4 separate regions of the Homo sapiens genome follow, and regions 1, 2 and 4 are each linked to region 3. The links come from fine-mapping of genetic effects on gene expression. A gene starts in region 3. Each other region holds a variant in brackets. All regions are shown on one strand. Distances are between the middles of the regions.

The links. PIP is the estimated chance that this variant, and not a neighbour inherited with it, causes the effect. A credible set is the group of variants that fine-mapping cannot tell apart.
Region 1: its variant is the best candidate, but not a certain one, in a credible set for the expression of SH3PXD2A in monocytes after LPS (Quach 2016, PIP 0.68).
Region 2: its variant is the best candidate, but not a certain one, in a credible set for the expression of SH3PXD2A in whole blood (TOPMed, PIP 0.51).
Region 4: its variant is the best candidate, but not a certain one, in a credible set for the expression of SH3PXD2A in whole blood (INTERVAL, PIP 0.64).

What each region holds. Positions count from the first base shown.
Region 1 is chr10:103,531,330-103,536,474 of GRCh38, forward strand. All of the region lies in intron 1 of NEURL1 (neuralized E3 ubiquitin protein ligase 1), which reads left to right. Among named protein-coding and RNA genes, the nearest start is that of NEURL1-AS1, 16 kb to the left of the region's middle. The variant C/T (reference allele first, on the strand shown) is at 2,128.
Region 2 is chr10:103,661,307-103,666,451 of GRCh38, forward strand. All of the region lies in intron 7 of SH3PXD2A (SH3 and PX domains 2A), which reads right to left. LOC124902495 (a long non-coding RNA gene) reads left to right here. Exons shown (of 2, transcript XR_007062276.1): 2 at 4,641-4,845. Among named protein-coding and RNA genes, the nearest start is that of SH3PXD2A-AS1, 83 kb to the right of the region's middle. The variant C/A (reference allele first, on the strand shown) is at 2,497.
Region 3 is chr10:103,853,071-103,858,215 of GRCh38, forward strand. SH3PXD2A (SH3 and PX domains 2A) reads right to left here and starts at 2,506. Exons shown (of 15, transcript NM_001394015.1): 1 at 2,125-2,506. The coding sequence starts at 2,196.
Region 4 is chr10:103,622,606-103,627,750 of GRCh38, forward strand. It overlaps SH3PXD2A (SH3 and PX domains 2A), which reads right to left. Exons shown (of 15, transcript NM_001394015.1): 9 at 4,484-4,597. Among named protein-coding and RNA genes, the nearest start is that of NEURL1-AS1, 110 kb to the left of the region's middle. The variant C/T (reference allele first, on the strand shown) is at 2,129.

The sequences.
Region 1 (5,145 bases), 320 kb before region 3:
CCAATGCCAAGAGTAAGGTGTTGAAGTCCCTAACCATTATTATATTGGGTTCTGTCTCTACTTTTTGAAACATTTTTATTTTTTTTATTTATTAGAGGTGGAGTCTTGCTATGTTGCCCAGGCTGGTCTTGAACTCCTGGCCTCAAGCTACCCTCCTGCTGTGGCCTTCCAAAGTGCTGGGATTACAGATGTGAGCACCATGTCTGGCCCCCACTTTTTTTGAGACAGGGTCTCACTTTATTGCCCAGAGTGAAGTGCAGTAGCATGGTCATAGCTCACTGCATCCTCAAACTCCTTGGGCTCAAGTGATCCTCCTGCCTCAGCCTCCTAAGTGCATACTACCATTCCTGGCTTTTTCTTTTTTTTTTTTAGTAGAGATGAAGTCTCACTATGTTGCCCAGGCTGGTCTTGAACTTCTGGCCTCAAATAACCCTTCTGCCTCAGTCTCCCAAAGTGCTGGGATTACAGGCATGAGCCACTGTGCCTGGCCTCTGTCTCTCCCTTTAGATCTAATAATTTATGCTTTATATATCTGGATGCTCCATTGTTTGGCACATATAATTTATGATTGTTATGTCCTCTTGCTGAATTGATCCCTTTATCATTATATAATGACCTTGTCTCTATTTACCATTTTGACTTAAAGCCTGCTTTATCTGATGTTAAGCATAGCTTTTCCTGCCAATTTTGGTTTCTGTTTGCATGGAATATCTTTATCCATCCCTTCATTTTCAGTCTATATGTGTCTTTACAGGTGAAGTGAGTTTCCTGTAGGTAGCATATAGTTAGGTCATTTATTTTCTTATCCGTTCAGGCAGTGTATGTCTTTTAAATGGAGGAATTTAATCTGTTTACATTCAAGGTTATTGTTGATAGGTGAGGACTTGCCCCTGTCAATTCATTAATTGTTTTCTGATTGTTTTGTGTATCCTTTCTTTCTTATTGTTTATGATTGTGGTTTGGGTTTTTGTTTTTTTGGTAGTGATAAGGTTTGATTCTTTTTCTCCTTTGTGTATTTGCTCTACCAGTGAGTTTTACACTTTTATGTGTTTTCATGATAGTGATGATTGTCTTTTTTGCTTCCAGATGTAGGATTCCATTGAGCATTTCTTGTAAGGCTAGTCCAGTGGTGATGAATTCTTTCAGTTTTTGCTTGTGTGGGAAAGACTATTTCTCCCTAATTTCTGAAGGATAGCTTTGCTGGATATGGTATTATTGGCTGATGATTATTTTCTTTTAGCACTTTGACTGTATCATCCCATTCTCTACTGGCCTGTAAGGATTCTGTGGAGAAATCTGCTCTTAGTCTAATAGATATTCCTTTATATGTGACTCAATGCTTTTCTCTTGCTGTTTTTAGAATTCTCTTTTTTTTTTCCTTTTTTTGGAGGCTTTCTCTGTGAACTTTCTGTATCTTTGACTTTTTACAATTTGACTATAATGGCCTCAGGGAGGGCCTTTTTGGGTTAAATCTATTTGGGAATCTTTGAGCTTCCTTGATCTGGATGTCCACATCTTTCCCCAGACTTAAGAAGTTTTCAGCTATTATTTCATTAAATAGGTTTTCTACACCTTTTTCCTTCTCTTCTCCTTTTTTTTTTTTTTTTTTTTTTTTGAGATGGAGTCTTGCTCTGTCACCTAGGCTGGAGTGCAGTGGCGTGATCTTGGCTCACTGCAAGCTCTGCCTCCTGGCTTCACGCCATTCTCCTGCCTCAGCCTCCCGAGTAGCTGGGACCACAGGCACCCACCACCATGCCTGGCTATTTTTTTTGTATTTTTAGTAGAGACGGGGTTTCATCATGTTAGCCAGGATGGTGTCCATCTCCTGACCTCATGATCCACCCGCCTTGGCCTCTCAAGGTGCTGGGATTACAAGCTTGAGCCACTGTGCCTGGCCCTTCTCTTCTCCTTTTAAAACTACTGTAATACAAATATTTGATTGCTTTATTATGTCTCATAAGTCTTGTAATTTTTCTTGACTTTTTTGTTCTTATTTATTTTTTTCTCTGACTGGGTAATTTCAAATGACCTTTCTTTTTTCTTTTCTTTTTTTTTTTGAGATGGAGTTTCACTCTTGTTGCCCAGGCTGGAGTGGAATGGCGTGATCTCAGCTCACTGCAACCTCTG[C/T]CTCCTAGGTTCAAGTGATTCTCCTGCCTCAGCCTCCTGAGTAGCTGGGATTACAGGCATAAGCCACGATGCCGGACTAATTTTGTATTTTTTTTTTTGAGATGGAGTCTCACTCTGTCGCCCAGGCTGGAGTGCAGTGGCGCGATCTTGGCTCACTGCAAGCTCTGCCTCCTGGGTTCACACCATTCTCCTGCCTCAGCCTCCTGAGTAGCTGGGACTACAGGCGCCCGCCATCACACCCGGCTAATTTTTTGTATTTTTAGTAGAGACGGGGTTTCACCGTGTTAGCCAGGATGGTCTCGATCTGCTGACCTTCTGATCCGCCCGCCTTGGCCTCCCAAAGTGCTGGGATTACAGGCTTGAGCCACCGCTCCCGGCCTAATTTTGTATTTTTAGTAGAGATGGGGTTTCTCCATGTTGGTCAGGCTGGTCTTGAACTTCTGACCTCTGGTGATCCACCCGCCTTGGCCTCCCTAAGTGCTGGGATTACAGGCGTGAACCACCGCGCCTAGCTCAAATGACCTACCTTTCAAGTTCAGAGAATCTTTCTTCTGCTTGATCAAGCGCTGTTGAAGCTCTCTATTGCATTTTTTATTTCATTCATTGAACTTTTTGGCTGCAGGACTTCTGTTTGTTTCTTTTAAAATTGTTTCTATCTCTTTGTTGAATTTGTCTTTCACATCGTGAATTGTTTTCTTGATTTTTATCAGATTGTCTATCTGTATTTTTTTTTTTTTGTATCTTGTTGATTTCCTTAAGATCTCTTTTTGAATTCCTTTTCTTGAAATTTGTGGATTTCCTTCCCATTTGGGTCTCTTACTAGTGAGTTATTATGTTCCTTTGGTGGTGTCATATTTTCTTGACTTTTGAGTTTCTTTTGTCCCCACATCCTCACATTGATGTCTGTACATCTAGTGGATCAATCACCTCTTCCATTTTAGAATGGCTTTTGTAGAGAAAGGTTTTCATCTGCAGTTGGGTTGTAGTGTGCCAGTTGGAAAGAGTGTGATGACTCTGTTTCTGGATAGGTGCAATGGTATAGTCTCTATGCAGCTTCTTCAGCTGCACTGGACATCAGCAATAACTGTGAGCACCCCCGTGGCCTAGGCTGTAGATGTTTGTACACTGGCATCATAGGTTGTTAATGTCCTCAGTGTTGAGGGCTCTTGAGGTCCTCCTATTCTCATTTAACCCACAAGGGGAAGACTTAGCCAAGGGTATCTCTCTTGGTATCAAGTCTGACATGGCCTACAAGCAGCTGCAGCAGCCCTGAGTTCCAGGTGCAGGTGCTTAGAGTGGCTGTGGGGCTGGGGTCCTAGGCTGAGGGTCTTGCAAGCGTATTATGCCACCTGGGTCATGGGGTGCAACTTTGCTGTCAGTGGCAGGGTTGGATATATGTTGCCCACAGAGCCAGCATCTGTGACTCTGAAGCACCCGCTATCAGCTCAGCCCCATAGGCTGGGTTGTACCTGTGATTCTACTGCTGGGAGGGAGAGGGCACAGTACTGGCCTGACTCCTGGGAAGAAGTGCTCTAAAGATTTGGGCCTGGGAGACAAGGCATGGCTGCAATTCAGGAACTTGAGCCAATAGGGTTCAGCAGCAACTCAGATCCCAGGGGATGAGGCATTGTGTAGTGTGACTCTAGAACAAGGGATTGTGGGGCTTGGCAATAATCCTGACTGTGTGATGCCAGGTGCAGCAGCAGCAAGTATCCCAGAAAGGTGGGGCACAGCTGTTGTTTGGGCACTGAGGGGGCAAGAAACAGCACAGTGATGACTTTACTCCCCAGGGAGAGGGGTATGTCAGCGGCTCAGACTCTAGAGGGCTAGCCCAGCTCTGGGGCAACAGAGTACTAGGGTTGTTTGGCCTGTAGGGCAGGATGTCTCAGTTCATTCACAGCTCTATTTCCCTGGGACATGGGGTACTAGGTCAGCTCAGTTCTGGGATGCACAGTTGCTCAGCTTGGCCAGGGCACTGATTCCCCAGGAGCTGGTGTGCTGCTTCAGCTCATGCTTGGGGGTGATAGGGGACATGACTGTCCTCGGCAGCCCAGGAACTATTTCCCTGAGATGCAGAGCACCACTTTAGCTTAGGCACTGGGGTGAGTGACTGCTCCAGGTAGCCAAGGTACTGTTTTCTGGGATGTAAGGCACTCCTTCAACTTAGGCACCAGAGAGGTGTGACTGTCCTGAGCAGCCAAGGTACTGTGTTTAGGAGGCAGGGTACCTAGGAAATCAGTTAGGCTCTGGCCCAAGGGGGCAGAAGGAGGGGTAGATGGAGTGGCTCTACCTCTGCTGGGCCCTGCAGGGAAGGGTGCAACAGCTGCTGGCAGCTTGGCTTGGGGATGTTGGGCCACTGGGCTGGGGTGGAGGGTGGCTTAGCTCCAGGGATGAAGGGGACCCATGGCAACTCACCCCGGGAGCAAGATGCGCTCCAGCTGTTGTTCCAATTCCAAGATGGCATAGCAGAGTAGCCATGTGGGCACAGGGGGCATGGCACAGCATTGGCTTCTTCTTTGGAGGAGCACTGCTGTGTGGACTCCAGGCAGCTTCCTTAGCTGAGCTTGGTGCCTGTGAGAATTGCAGGGACTCCAGTGGTGAGGTCTGTAGGTGGCCAAGGTGTTGATGGGGGTTGCTTGCACCCTCTTGCTTACCTCCTGGTTTCCAGCTGATCCTGGTGGGGGGATGGAATGGTAGAGTCCCAGCATTTTCTTCTGTTCTCTGTGTAGCCATCTCAAGTTTCTGTCACCCATCTGATGAACTCTGGCACTCTCCCTCAGTTATTTTTGTTAAAATAACAATGTTGACCGGGCGCTGTGGCTCAGGCCTTTAATCCCAGCGCTTTGGGAGGCTGAGGCGGGTGGATCACCTGAGGTCAGGAGTTTGAGACCAGCCTGGCCAACATGGTGAAACCCCTTCCCTACTAAAAATCCAAAAATTAGCTGGGCGTGGGGGTGGGCACCTGTAGTTCCAGCTACTTGGGAGGCTGAGGCAGGAGAATCTCTTGAACCCAGGAGG
Region 2 (5,145 bases), 190 kb before region 3:
CGCTGCACCGCGGGGTCCGGGGGACATGGGGAGCCAGGGGGCCGGGGAGGGGACGGGCAGGAGGAGGAGGAAAGAGAGAGGCAGAGCGGAGGCGGAGGCCAAGGAAGCTCAGAAAGAAGCCTTGTGCTGCGATGAGTTAGTCACAGCCCGGCATGAGGGAGCCTGCGGGGAGGCCTGGGGCCGACGGGGTCTCTCCGGCCTCCCTCTCGGGCCGGCAGGGGCATCGGGGAGGGCGGCGAGCCAGCGGGTGGGCGGCCCATGAGGGCTGAGGCCAGAGGCAAAGGAAAGGCAAGCAGGAGGCTCCAGCCTCTGCCCCCAACCCCTGCAAACCCGAGAGAAAAGGCAGCCCTGCTCCCTCGGGCGGGAGAGGGAGAGGAGAGAGCGGGAGAGAGCTTCTCCACGGCCCAGGCCCAGGCGAGGAGTCAAGAGGGTTTGAGGCCGCCAATCACTGGGGTTTACTCGCAACCCTTAAATAGAAACACATGAGACCCGTCGAATGAGGAGCCGGGGGTGGAGGCAGGGGAGGGGGAGGAGGCCTAGACTGTTTACTTGAAACCCAAGAAGAAAGTCCCCGCGCCAGCGGCTGGCGAGCCCAGCCCGCCCCCCGCCAACTTTTCCTCAAGTTCGCTCCGTTCCTGCCCCTCGGGCTCACCCAGGCGCTGCCACCGAGCCCAGGCCGGGTACAGTCGGACCAGCCTCAGGCCTGCCCCCAGCCCTGCTTCCAGAGAGGGCCCTCTGGCTGCAGAGACTGACTCAGTTTCTCTCTGCCTTTCAGTGCCGGGGCTTGTGGTCAGGCCCCGGCAGTTTGAGGGGCTTGAGGGGTCAAAAGCTGGGTGCAGCAGAGGGAGGGCAGGTGGACTCCCAGGAGCAAGCAGCTTCTCTGTCCTCCTCAGCCACTGGACCAGCACGACATTTGCTAAGCAGGCACCAGGCAGGAAGGCAGACAGGCTGGGTGCCCTTTTAGCTTCCTAGCTGAGTGGCACTGGATGCTGCTTAAACCTCTGCACTTCAACTCTTCCCATCACCATTATTGGCGGGGGGGGGGGCGGGGGGGGATAAGACACTTAAAATATGATGTGCTTTTTTTTTTTTTTTTTTTTTTTTGAGACGGAGTCTCGCTCTGTCGCCCAGGCCGGACTGCGGACTGCAGTGGCGCAATCTCAGCTCACTGCAAGCTCCGCTTCCCGGGTTCACGCCATTCTCCTGCCTCAGCCTCCCGAGTAGCTGGGACTACAGGCGCCCGCCACCGCGCCCGGCTAATTTTTTGTATTTTTAGTAGAGACGGGGTTTCACCTTGTTAGCCAGGATGGTCTCGATCTCCTGACCTCATGATCCACCCGCCTCGGCCTCCCAAAGTGCTGGGATTACAGGCGTGAGCCACCGCGCCCGGCCTATGATGTGCTTTTAGCTAGGAGTGAAAAGGATCCACTAGCCAGAAATGGACTAGTCACCTCCTACAGGAAGCCTTCTCAGACCACCCCCAGCCCAAAGGGAATTCCTAGTATACTTTTGTTTTTTTTGAGACAGGGTCTTTGTTGCCCAGGCTGGAATGCAGTGGTGCAATCATGGCTTACTGCAGCCTTGACCTCCTGGATTCAAGCAATCCTCCCACCTCAGCCTCCCATGTAGCTGGGACCAAAGGCACACACCACCATACCCGGCTAATTTTTTTATGTTTTGTAGAGCTGAGGTCTCACTTTGTTGCCCAGGCTGGTCTTGAACTCCTGGGCTCAAGTGATCCTCCCGCCTCAGTCTCTCAAAGTGCTGGGATTATAGGCATAGGCCACTGCGACTGGCATAAACTATATGTCTGCCAATCTCCTTGAAGGCTAGGGGGCTTCATGTCACTAGCCTGGCTACAAAAATTGCTGAGGGTCTCCAAGTTCCACACAGCCCCCTTGGTGCCTCAGCCTATAGCCACATTCCCCACACGCCTGAGTTTGACTTGGCAAATGTGATGTGCCAGGCACATTAACCGCCCCATTTCATGCCCACAACATCCCCCTTATCTTCCATTTCACAAAAGACTAACCAGAGGCCCCTCTACAGCAGGCAAGAGACGACTCTAGCTCCCACAGCTGCTATGAAGAGCATCACATTCATTCAGTATGATTTTGTTCAGGCCCAAGCCCATCTGTCTTTCCATTGCAGAATAACTGCCTCTGATTTGTTTCCATCAGTCTGGTTCTTCTAGCACAGTAATCCTCAACTTGGAAGCACAGAATCACCCAGGGAGCTTTTTAAAAGTACTGATGCTGGGCTCCAGAGAGACAGGTTTCTTTGGTCTGGGACTCAGGCATGAGTAGTTTTTGGACATCCCCCCTGTGTCCCTATGGTGCTTGTGTGCACCCAGGTGCAAGAAGCACTACTTAGATCTTTGGGTCCTTCTGTAGGGGGAGGCTCCCTCCAACCTAGGGCAGACGGCAATGGCCACAGAACTCTAGGAAATCCCAAAGGGAGGCCTCCTTCCAGGGAAAGAAACCCACTGCCCCCCGG[C/A]AGTTTTCTCCCATGAGGTGTGGGCCCTGCAGGCCCATCTCAGCCCTTTGGAGAAGCAGAAGGGACCCTGCACAGCTGAGTGTGCCACATACATTCGCACGTGCACAGTCCCGAGCAGCCCTGCTAAAGCCGGGATTGTATTTCAGGCAGAAATGCAACCAACAGCCGGGCAGTAGGGCCTGCCCCGCCTCTGTACTTAGGCATGCCAGCTTCTGTGCCTGCCCCTGCCAGCTGGGCAGAGGCAGCGCCGGGTGCTGCGCTGACGGACTACCTCCCACTGTGCCCCTAGGGGAACAGCAGTGCCTGTTCCATGCCTGGAGCCTCTGTGGCCAACAGCACTTCTTAAGCGCACCCGGCACAAAAAGGGCCATCCCTGCCCTACGAGAAATGGGGCCTCCTTTCCCAGTGTGGGGGCACTGGATGAGAAGAGTGGGAAAGAAAGGCTCCAGCAACAAACAAGAATAGAGAGTTCTGTGGCAGGTTAGAGAGCCCGCAAGGCCTGAGTATGGCCAGATCATAGCAATAGTGACAGCAAGCCTTCATCAGTGCTGACTTGGAGGCATCCAACAGCATCGAGCTGCCTCGTCCAATCCTCAGAGCAACCCCATGCAGTAGGTCCTGTGATGGCCCCGTTTCACGCATGGGCAAAGCAAGCCTCATGAGGGTAAGTGAATTCTCTAAGGTCACACAGCTGGGATTGAACCCAAGCCCACCTGACACCACTGCCTATGATCTTAACTTCTGCACTGTATGTGGCCTATAATGGGCCACCGGCGCCTGGTCCCTAGGGAAGGGCCCATTACATCCCAGGTACCTGGGACACAGCGGCTGCTTAATAAAGACTAGAGTATGGGTTTCTTTCTCTCTCTTTTTTTTTTTTTTGAGACGGAGTCTTGCTCTGTCGCCCAGGTTGGAGTGCAGTGGCAAAATCTCGGCTCACTGCAACCTCCGCCCCCCAGGTTCAAGCAATTCTCCAGCCTCAGCCTCCCGAGTAGCTGGGATTACAGGTGCCCACCACCATACCTGGCTAAATTTTTTTTTGTATTTTTTAGTAGAGATGGAGTTTCACCATGTTGGCTAGGCTGGCCTTGAACTCCTGACCTTAAGTGATCTGCCCGCCTTGGCCTCCCAAAGTGCTGGGATTATAGGCATAAGCCACCACGCCTGGCCTAGAGTATGGGTTTCTAGTTGACTCTTGCCACCTCTACTGACCAGACCACAGTGCCTGTTAGGTGGCAGGCACTCAATAAGTGTGAAATGAACCAGTGAAACGCGTGAACTGGCAGAAAGATGAACAGAGGGACTCATTGGTTTGTGGTGTCAATATGAATACCTTGACTCTGATATGGGAATATGGGAAAATGAGCCAAACTCGAAGGGAGAAAGGGGAGATGGGGAAACTGAGGTAAGGAGGAGAAAGAAGCCCCAGCTTTGTGGCCAGAAGATGCCTGGAGGACGAGCAGGAGGTGCTGGGGAGTGGACAGACATCAGCTCATTTTAATCCAAGCCAAGAAAATCTGAGGCAGGGTTTCAAAGCAGAGTTAAATCCACACCCCCACACCCCTTCCCCCCACCACTTTCCTGGAAAATTGGCCTGACCTTCCTGAAGGCTGACTCTCTGGGACACAGGTAGAAAAGTTAAGGAAATATTCTCTAGGCATTGGAAAGCACAGACAGGCTATGGCCTCTCTCAGGAGCTGCTCCAAAGGCTGTGGGATGGACACACGGACACTCTGTCCTTCTGGCTGCCCTTCCCTCCCGTTGCACAGGCAGGCTCCCAGCTCTTCCCTCTGGCAGCTGCCTCTTAGGGTGTTCCCTGGCCAGGGCAGCCGGGCGGGCGGGAGCTGCGAGCAGGTATCCAGATGAGAAACCACTTGCAGGCCAGGCAGGCAGTGGGCGGTGATGTCATCCCACAGAGGCCACTCTGGATCCCCTCTCAGCCAAGGCCTGCAGAACTAGGGGCTGGAGGAGTCTGCCTGAGTGGGGAGGGGGCAGTGGAGGGAGCCTGGTGTCTTTAGATGAGGAGTGCTTGGCAGGAGCATGGAGAAGGGGTGTACCTCTTCTAGACAGCAGAGCCTCTCCTGGGTTGGAAGGGGCCTTTGCATGAGTCTGATCCAGAGATGGACCCTTGTGCTTTATTACAGAGCCCCTGGCTGGACCTGCTGGGGTCCCAGGGGTCCCCTGGACCCCTGCCCCACCCTTGCCTCACATCTGCATTCCTTCAACTACCACCTGGATGGAACCCTGGCTGCCAACTTAAACTTCTCAACTGGGCTTTTGCCAAGTCAGTCCCATGCTCCAACGCCTTCCACGGCTCCCTCTTGCCTATAAAGGACAAATTCAAGCCCAGTCTTTCTTGCCAATCTGAGCTCCCCAAGTTCCTTGATCCCCGTCCCCCACACCACCATTCAATACATCATTCATGATTCAACACATGTATCGAGCACCCACTAGGCGCCAACACCCAACACCACTGCTCCATGCAGCTTCTTACTTTCCAAGTCTGTGCTCTAGCTGCTGCCCCCTGCTGGAATGCTTTCCCTTCTCTCTACCAATCCCAGTTTCCCAATTCTCCCCAAGCATCTCTGTCCTCCAGGAGGCTCCTGATCACTCTTGTTCCCTCTTTTCTGTTCCCTCCTGGACTTTATG
Region 3 (5,145 bases):
CATGGCCCCATCTGTTCAGTGACATCACTCCCTGCCCCCCCAAACATAATGTCATCGATTCTTACTCGGGAAGCGGAGATGTCCCGGGAAACACTTTGTCTGTAAAAAGGAAGGAAATGATCATTTCGAGGGAACTGGACAGGACTTCTTTTGTGTTTTTCACATAGAACAAGTTATTATCAATCTTAAAACCCAAAATCTTTCTTCCTTTTTGCCAGACCATTAATAGCTGCTTTTCAAAAATACTTTCTTAGTCAGAATCTCACCAATAATAAGCTACCATTTAATAAGAGCTTACTGCGTGCCAGGAACTGGGCTAAGTGCTTTACATAGATGATCTCATTTAATTCTCCCAACAAGTACATACTATTATTATCCTTACTTGAAATTGAGTAAACTGAGGCTGGGGGAGGTTTAAATAACTTGCCAAGGTGGCACAGCTAGTTACTGGCTGCATGCCAGGCTTTGAGCAAGACCGTCTAACTTCAGAACCCCAGCACGCAATCTTGCCTTTCAATCCTGTCTGCAGTGGGCCCCGGTTCTAGTTTGTTACCAGTGTGTCCTGCATCTGCAACCTTGGGCACCATCGGTGGGAGCTGAAATGTGATGTTTCATTTAAAATCCAGAGTTGGAAACGCACCTGCCTGGGTCTCAGAGCAGAGTGCCATCTGTTGAATGCAGTGCCAAGCTCAGCTGAGGACTACAAATGAGAACCCTTAAAACTTAGCCTGCAACATTTGAGAAAAATAAACCCTGGGATATACAAAGGGACATCTGTCCACAGAGCAGGTTGACCACCTGGTGACCCAAGCCCTCCAAAAAGAGCTTTCTTGTAACAGCAGCAGAAAATGCTTGCTGGACCAGATGACACAAAAGAAACAACTCTCTAAGGGTGTCAGGGACTGGACCCGACAGGCACCCACCTCCCTGCCTAGTCAACCTGCCTCCACATTTACCTCCTCCCCATATGAGCCCAGCCGCATTTGCTCAGCTGTAAAGAAACTCAAAGTTCAGAGCTACACTGGTGACAAAGGCAAAAAGAGTAGCCCGAGGCTGACATTGCCACAAACCCCAGTCCCTTTGCAACAGTGGAAGAAAAGGCACTTCAGAGATCAATGTACAATCCAGGGCAGCAACCAGCGCCTGTTTTAACTGTTAAGATTAATGCTTTGAGCACTGGAACTGCTCCTCTAAATACCCAATTTGCAAATAACATGCAGTCCTCTGTGCTTGGGTCTCTTCTATCTCAAGTACAGGAGCACAGACGCTCAGAGGGGTCAAGGACACCGTGTTTACTTCCTAAGGTGTGAGGGATGGGAAGACAGGACCGGCTGAGATGAAAGGGGAACTGTCACATAGGCTCTGGAGCTGCCCCAGTCAACCTTAACCCCTTCTCATTAAAGTTTGGGGGAGGAAGGGGGAGGGGCGGTTCCTCGGAGACCACAGCAAACATTCGCCTCCTCGTGTCTGGAGATGGAGCATCACTTAAGAGGAAATGAACCCGGTTAAGGGTCACGTCCAGAGGAGGGATAAAAGGAAAAGCCACAATTCTCCTCACACCGACGGACACAATGGCTTTATGAGGGAAATCAAAGCTTAGCGCGGAGGGTGGAGGTTGGGCAAGGGGGCGGCGGCTTCCTTCTGCCCCCAGCCCCAGGCCTAGGAAGGCAGAGACAGAGCTGGCGTGGGAGGCAGGGCGCGAGGCTTCCTTCTCCAGGGCGAGCTCTGAAAGCATCTCGGGCTGTGTGAGCGTGAGCGCCCAGGGCCCCTGGGGAGGGCCGAGGAGATGCGCTTTCCCGACGGGGCTGCTCTGTGAGGGGTTGACGAAAGCTCCCCCCACCATCCATCAAAGGCGGACAGATGACTTCACCGTTGTAACAGACAAGGGCAGCCACTTGCCAATTCCAATGCCAAAAAAAGAAACCGGGGGGGCGGGGGTGCGAAGGAGGAAGGACAGAAGAGGCTTCCCTGGAGATCACAGCCCTGCGAAGAAACTCCACGGCTGCTGGCTGCCCAGTGGGCGCTTAGCTTCGCGACCTCACAGCTGGGAGGGGCAAGGGGCCATCCGGGGCCCTCCCGGGACCTCGGGCCACCCCCAGCAGGGTCGGCGGGGGCTGTACTCACGTAGTGCTTGGAGGGGTTCCTCCGCTTCTCCACGTCCACCACGGTGGCATCCTGCACGCAGTAGGCGAGCATCTTCCCCCACAAAGCGAGTGGCGCCCCCGGCGGCGTCACCTTCTCATCCCGGCCGGGCTCCGGCTCCTTCTCCAGCTGCCGGGGTCCCGGGGCCGCCCGCCACCCCGGCCCGGCGCGCCGAACGCTGCCCGGACTCCCGGCGCCCACAGGTCCGGCCCAGGGACGGGGGAGGGTCCCGGAGGGCGCGCGGGCTCCGTGCGCCCCGGGGGACTCCCCGCCGGCCTGCCGCGCGCCCCTTCACTCCCGCGCGGCCGCCGCGCTGCGCTCGCCCGCTCGCTCTCTCCGCCGCCCGGTGGGTCCGGCGGGAACTGGCGGAGCAGAGGAGGGGCGGGGGTGTGTCCCGTCGGCGAGGGGACGGGGCGGGGGCCCCGGAGCCTGCTGTCAGCGTCCTGGGGAGGGGCCGGCGGCTCCCCTTCGCCGCTCTCCGGCTCGGGCTCCGGGGGGATCGGCGCTGGCGGAGGCTGTGGGCGCAGGAGGCGGAGGCAGGGCCTGGCAGGCAGGGAAGGGAAGGGAGGGAGGGGAGAGAGGGGAAGCGCGCGGGGAGGGGCTCCGGGCCGGGGGAGGGGCTCGGGGCGACGGGGAGGGGGCTGCAGCCCGGCCCCAGTGGCAGGGGCGGGCCGACGAGCCCCCACCCGAGCCCAGCGCGCAGCCAGCGGCCTGGCGCAGCACCGGGCTAGTTCGCTAGGCACAAAAACTCAGGGTGGCTTCGGGGGGAGAGGGAGCGGGGAAAGTGAGCCCCGCGCGCCCCCATCCTGGCTTTCCGCCTCGGAGCGGATTTGTGCCTTTTTGTCCCCACTTTTATGTCCCCCTACAACTTCCACCCCCAGATCTCTTTAATGAGAAGTAGTTTATTACCCGGCTGTTACTGCCCAGGCCCCCGAGGAGGAGATGGGAATGGGGAAAAGGCCAGCTTTAAATCCTTCAAGCCAGAGCCTCTTTGGACGAACCACCTGACCCTCTGCAGGTCATAAAGGGTGAATTCTCCCCGGAAAAGTGATCGATTCGTTGCCTGAGTCGTCCATCGATCTGGGCTTGTGTAACTACCCTGTGCATCATTTACCAATGACAACGTTACAGACTCTGCATAACACCACTGCCTTAAGCCCAGGGCTCCCCTGGGGACCCTCCCCAAGCTGGCGACAGGGAAAGGAGCATACAATGGTGGGAAAACCCACCCGGTTGGAGGCCAGCTCACCGTGAGCCCCAGGCTCTGGCATTCTCACCCCTCCCTCTAGTCTGGAAAACCCACTTTCCAAGCCACTTGTCCGTGGTCCCTGGACTTGGAGCACAGTTACTACTTAATTCAATGTAGCTTCCCCCCTTCTAGTTCAACATTTTTTTCCCATTCTGCTTTCAAACATTTAAAGGGTAGTGTTTTCACAACTACTCCAGTTGTTACACAATCACAATAAAGCTTTGTGACTGTGGACCAATGTGAAACATCTGAAAAGAGGACAAATAATTTTGTGACCTAATTGCATTAATACTTTCTTCTGCGCGTTCTCTAGACTGTCAGAACCCAGGCACAGATCTAAGGCTTTATTTATTCACATATTTGCTCCATACAGAGTAACCCACTATTCCTCCAACCTTCCTGGGGAAGGGCGCTAGGACACCAAACGATGGCACGGGACAAAGAAAAAAAAAGATGGATGGGCCTAGGGGGCTCAGACTGTGAGAGATCTTGGCACCAGGCCAGAGCTTCTTGGTCAGAGAAGATGACAGAAAACCTTTGTGAATGTTGGAGCAGGAGTCCTGGGGGAAGGTGCACCTGGTAATGTTGCTCAGCTGATGGGAAAATGGGAGGACAGGGCACTACCTCCATGAGCAAGGATTATTCCCTGAAGGGATGAGAGGTAGACCTGGAACGGGCCCTCCATATTGAGCTCCCGAACTTGGGAGGGTGCTGGCCAGCTCCAGGTCCTCTCTGATGATGGATCAAGACAGCCTGTGAGTTTGTGAGGAAGAGATTCATCATGGCTCTCGGATAACTCGTCTTCTGTGGATGGCAAAGTCTTCTGGAAGTGCTAATAAAACCTGAGAAGCCACCAGCGAGGGGAGCTGGTGTTTAGCTGTTGTGGGGGGAAGAAGAGGAGGGGGTTTAGTTTGATTTGGGTCCCCTTGTGAATCAAAGCAGTCAGCTCATCTAAAACAGCACTAGTGGTTTCCTTATTACCCTTCTTTCGGACCCAGATCCACAATGAACACACCAAGCACAATAAATTTGTAGGAGAGAGGGCCCAGTTCTTCCCCACTTCCTAGCGGCCTACAAAGTGGTAGCCTTTCTCCTGCCTAAAAGACTCCCTGCAACTTGACATTTTATAAATTCAGGCCTTTAAGCCTGACTTGAGCATACTCCCAACTTCCCCCTTTGTTCCGTAATTACCTTTATTGGAGGGAGCAACTGAGTGCTCCCCACTCAACCCCATGGTGCCAAGATCTGGGCAGAAGTTATTTCTACCTGTGGGAGAAAAATGTCTTTTCTGTACTGGGGCCGTATGTCCAAGGGGATTTAAGTATGAAATGGTGCAGGCTATCTCTTCTCTGGGTACATTTCAACCTCATGCAGATTTATTTCCCACAGTGCCTTGGGAATTCCTTTCTGTTCAATACACATTTATTGAATGCCTCACATGTGCCTGGCAATCCCCCAAAAATGACAGAGACTGGGGGAAGTTTCCTTGGAAACAAGGACTGTGCATCATTCATTAAATACCCCAACTATGCGTGGCACACAGTAGGTATATAGGATGGCCTGTGTTGAAAACATCTGCTCAAAGAGCTAGTGCTAGAAAGGATTAGAGAAACCCCTATTTTGCCACCTCCGCCCATGAACTGGAGATGACTCCAACCTAAGGACATTGTGTGAGTTAAAAATGACAAAATATAATTGCAAATTTTTTTTTAAGTTTAGGATAAGTAAGGGAAAGAGAAGCCAACATAAAGATG
Region 4 (5,145 bases), 230 kb before region 3:
AATGGAGATGAGGATGAGATGGGATGGGGGTGGGAGGAAGGGGCACAGGGAGGGGAGGCCCACACTTCCAGTCACCATCACCTGGACTGAACCAAAGGGCACGCCCCTGTTGGATGGGGCAGATATGACAGGTCATGGTCGGCACACAGGGAAAAATTCAACCAAACTCCACAGCGTGTGCCCCTGAGCCTAGGAGTGGGCTAAAGCCTTTAGAATCCCAGCACCTTAGAGAAAAGAGGGTCCCTAGCTCCAGCCCAGTGCAAGACAGCCCCTCAGCTACAGCCTCCAGGGATGGTGAGATCAGTGTCCCTCACTGCTGGGCGGTGCTGATTCCCAGGAGGGTGTGGGGTCCTGCAACATCTGAGCTTATGTCCACTCGCTCACTGAGTACTGACTGTGAACGTGCTACCTTGGACAGGCACCATGCTTGGAAGAATCAGTGTGCCCAAGAGAGACTTGGATCCCTTCCTTGCGGGGCTGAGAGCTCTCGCCATTCTGGGAACCCTTCCCTGTGTCTCTGCATTCCCAGGGCCTAGCACAGGGCCGGGCACACAGCTGGGTCCCAGGAAGCACCTGCTGAACGGAATGACACAAGGGTGGGTGCCAGAGGCCCTGGCTCTGCTCCTCCTCTCAGGCCACCCATCGGGACATCTGATGACAGGGGCCCCCTCCCCAGCTTCTCACTGCTCCTGACCCCGTGCCCTGAGCAGCATCCTGCACTGCTCCTCTGGTGGCTGCTGCTTGGCTCTGAGCCCCCTGCACCCTCTGCTCAGACCCCAGCTCCAGATGCCTCTGTCTTCCTGTGAGACTCCCAGATGGAATGGATACTGGACCAGGGCTCCAGGGTGCCAGCTGGCCTCACTTCCTGCCACCACAGAAAGAAGGTGCCAGGCTGCCCGGGTCTGGGGGTGGGAGAGGGGCCAGTGGCTGGAGTGAAAATAAAACCGTCCCAGACCACCGAGGCCCTGGGAAAGCATTTGCTTTCCTGGAAGAAGAGGGACCTGTCTGACCTGCTTCTTATAAGGACAAAAGGGTAGGAGGTGTGGACTCCAGTCCAGGCCCCACTGCCAGCAACCTGTGTCACTCTAGGAGGCCAGCCACCCATCTCTAAGCCTCTCTTTCCTCATCTGTCTTACAGTGACACCACCTGCCCTGGCATGAGCCTAGACAAGGGGCTGAATGGGCTCTGGGAAACATGAATCAGGTCCTGTGCAAGGCCTCCTGGTGGGGCAGGGAGAGGTGGGGGAGGTGTGTAGGGCTTCTCTGCAGAGATGAAGGGGTTCAGCTCATGGCCAGACCAGAGGCAGCTTTCACAGTAAGGTGTTGATGTCGGCATTTACTCTGTGTGCGAGGCCCAGTTTAAACCATGTACAAAGATCATCTCACTTGGGCCTCACAAAAGCCCTATGTGGTTGGCATCTTACAAATGGGGAGACAGAGGCACAGGGCTTTAAAGAACACTCTGTGTCAGGCAGCATGTGAATCCAGGCAGTCTGGCTCCAAAGCCTAGACTCTTAGCACAGACTCTGCACCCCGAGCTATTGCTGTTCCCCTAACTCTGCTGCCCCTTGGGCTGCCAAGCCCTGGGAAGAAGGGGATGTGGGGAGGGAACAGGGTCTGGGTGCTGGGGGATCTGCTCACTAATGGGGTACACGCCTTTGGTACAGCAGCACAGAAGACCGTGGTCTGTTCCGCATGTCCCAATATGCGCCCACTCTGGAGGAAGCAGGTCCATACTGGTAGATGTGGGACACAGGAGCAAAGGCAGAGACTTGGGTTCTGGTCTTGGCTCTATCACAAATGAACCCGAGGGCTTGACAGAGGTAACACACCTCTCCTGGTTCACTGAAGCACCCTGCGAATGTCAGGCTTGGACCCGCACCTCTGTCAGTGGACAAGGAAGTCTCAACTCCCACCCTTCCTACCATACTGAACTCCCACAGCACACCTGGGTTCAAGAGCAGCATGAACATACATCAAAGTGTCTCATGATAAGGACACACCAGAACAGCCAATCATCTTTTCTTCCTAAAGTAATGAAGATGAGCTATTAGGAAAGCTTTGATAGGATGCAGGCTTCCAATTTCTGTCTACAGGGCTCAGGGCACCTATGATGGGATGGCCATAG[C/T]GCTGGGGTAGAGATGGCTGGAGAGGGAACTAGTGTCGGCCAATCTCTTGGCCATGTGGCTGCAGGTGCAGAGAGACTAGCGGACACACCACAGCAGCTGGGGCCTTAGGCCCAGGGGACCCATCCCTGAGCCCTTCTGTAGATCTGGGTGGGAAATGCCCAAGATGTGACGGTGGAATCCACAGCTATCCAGAAGTTGCCAGGAGAATTGGCACACAGGCCCTGTCAGAGGCGTGCGCAGGAACCTATTTTAGGAGAATCGCCCTGGGCACGCATGCACGCGCACACACACCCACACCCACCCCCCACACACATACACCCACACCGCCTCTGAACGCAGAATCTGCACTGGCTGCCTGATTCTTCCTCCATCAAGGTCAAAATCCTGCCCAACCCACTACTACTTGTTCTGTGCGCAAAGCACCTGCCTTCTGTTCCAACCAGGCTGGCATCTGTGCTCCACACCTCTCGTGCGCTTTCCTGCCCTGGCCTTCTCCCCACTCAGTGCCTAGGTCCTCCATAATCGACCCAACAGCTCCGCTCTGACCTTCCTGGTGCAGCCTTTTCAACTGGGGCTCTGATTCATACACGCACTGCCCTAGAGCTGCCTGTACTGCTTACGAGCAAAATGCTTCACAGAGAGGTGTGTGGCACAGCAGAAAGGACCAAGGGACAAAGGAGGTGGACTAGGGTCCAAACCTGATAAACATCTTGAAGCCTCAGTTGCCACAGCTGGAAGGATGGGGATGGCCATAGCCACAGGGTCCTCCCAGGGTGGGGGCAAGGGCATTTCAGGACCTGGTCTAGCATCTGGTACTTTGTGAGCTCCTGCTGTTTTTGAGAGGCCCTGGCATGCCCTATAGAATGTGGAACTAGGGGCTGGGCACTGTGGCTCATGCCTGTAATCCCAGCACTTTGGGAGGCTGAGGTGGCAGATTGCTTGGGGCCAGGAGTTCAAGACCAGCCTGACCAACATGGCGAGACCCCGTCTCTACTAAAAACAAAAATTAGCCAGGCGTAGTGGTAGGTGCCTGTAATCCCAGCTACTCAGGAGGCTGAGACATGAGAATTGCTTGAGCCCAGGTGGCAGAGGTTGCAGTGAGCTGACATTGTGCCACTGCACTTCAGCCTAGGAGACAGAGCAAGACTCTGTTTCAACAACAACAACAAAAAGAATGTGGAACTAGGTAGGAGGTGAGGCTGGGGACTGCAGGCATATGAGACCAGACCTAGCTCAGGGGCCAAGACTCTCCCCTGCTGCAGAGGTGCAATGGAACCAGAGGGAAGACAGGTGCAGGCTCAGCCCCAGGGCTCAGGGAGCAGCCCAGCCTGAACATGCGGGCCCTTCCCAATGGGGCCTTGTCCCTGGAAACCTGTCACACAGTGGAAGCACATGGCAGGGGCCGAGGCTCTGGTCAAGGGGCTGAAGTAAAGCCTCGACATAGGAGGAAGGGCGAAGCCCCAGCTGCCCGCCGAGTAACCGACATTTAGGGGAAGAATGAATAAGGAGCTGGCACTTGGCGGCTGCTTACTTTGGCCTGGCAGCAGAAAGCAGGCCTGGAGGTGGCCCGAGCACCGGGTGGTGGCCTCAATCCCTCTGGCTTTCAGACATCCATCTGGACCATCCCCACCAACCGTTAGGGAAAGAATTCCCGCAGCCAGGCCATGGGAGGCTTGGAAGCCATTAGGAGCAGGCAGCCAAGAACTGGGGGTGGCGCAAACGGACTGGGCTCAGGCAGCCTGCTCTAGGGAGTACAGAAGCCACAGATAGGCCCAGGCCAGTGCTGGCTTAGAGGGCAGGGGCAGACTCTTTGAAATGCAAGGAGAAAGACCCTGAAAAACCTCACTGAGTAGTTTTTAAGTGTTTGGAATTAAAAAAAAAAAAAGAAAAAGAAAAAAAAAAAAAGGAAGGGCTGGGTGCGGTGGCCCACACCTGTAATTCCAGCACTTTGGGAGGCCAAGGCATGTGGATCGCTTGAGCCCAGGAGTTTGAGACCAGCCTGGCCAACATGGTGAAAGCCTGTCTCTAGAAAAAAATACAAAAATAAAAAAAAATAAGAAAAAGGGGGGTGGGTGGAAAAACAAACCTCATGAAGCCAAAGCTAATCAGAGAGGCTGACTGTGTAGGGGTCTGAGCCATCCCTCAGTTCCTGAGCCCCTGAGACAGAGCAGCAGGGGTCGGACTGGGGTGGGAGGTGAGCTTTTGGGCCAACCTTACTGAGATGGGATCCCAAGGGAGGAGGCTAGGATATGGCTCAGCTCACTTTAGGGGTTCTGTTGGTTCTAGGGAAAGAGTGAGAGAGCTGCCTCCAGAGGCCGCGTTGCTCCCTGCCCCTTGGACCTGCAAGCCCTCACCTTCTCCAGTCTTAGAGGTGTTGATGTCGGAGTCATCCCGAGTACCATTCTGGGCCTCCAGGTAGGTGGCAGGGACCCAGCCCTGCTCCTCAGAAGTGCTCACGAACCACCAGCCTGCAGGGAGGACAAGAGAGAACAGGACTGTGAGATTCTGCAGGGTGGCAGGGGTGGCTCGGGGGCCAGGACAAGGATGGAAGGAGAGGCACAAGAAGCGGAGCATGGAGCCAGATGGCCTGGGGACCCAGCAAATGCCTGGCCCAGCTCCAGCCTCGAGGAGCCTGCGTCTGTTCTAAGGCAGAAACGACCAGCACACTTCCCGAGAAGTGGGACCAATAAACTGTGAGCCACACTAACAAATGTCTGATGGAAAATGAAATAGACATAGTGATATGTCCAGTGTGTGAAAATTCATCTTGCAGGAAAGGCCAAGGGAGCTCCGGCCATACAGAGAGACCATTTATGGTCTTTGAAACCCATTAGGATGACTGGTTTGCCTGGAGCTTGGCTGCCTTCTCAGCTTTCAAGCTAAGTGCCTCACAGACAGTCTCTAACGGTCAACGGTTGCCTTTTCCCCATCGCGGGTCAGCGGTACCTTCGCATTGGTGCCACTCACAGCTGCCCTTTAAGTGTGTTCACGTTTCAGTCGCGGTAAGTGGGCACTG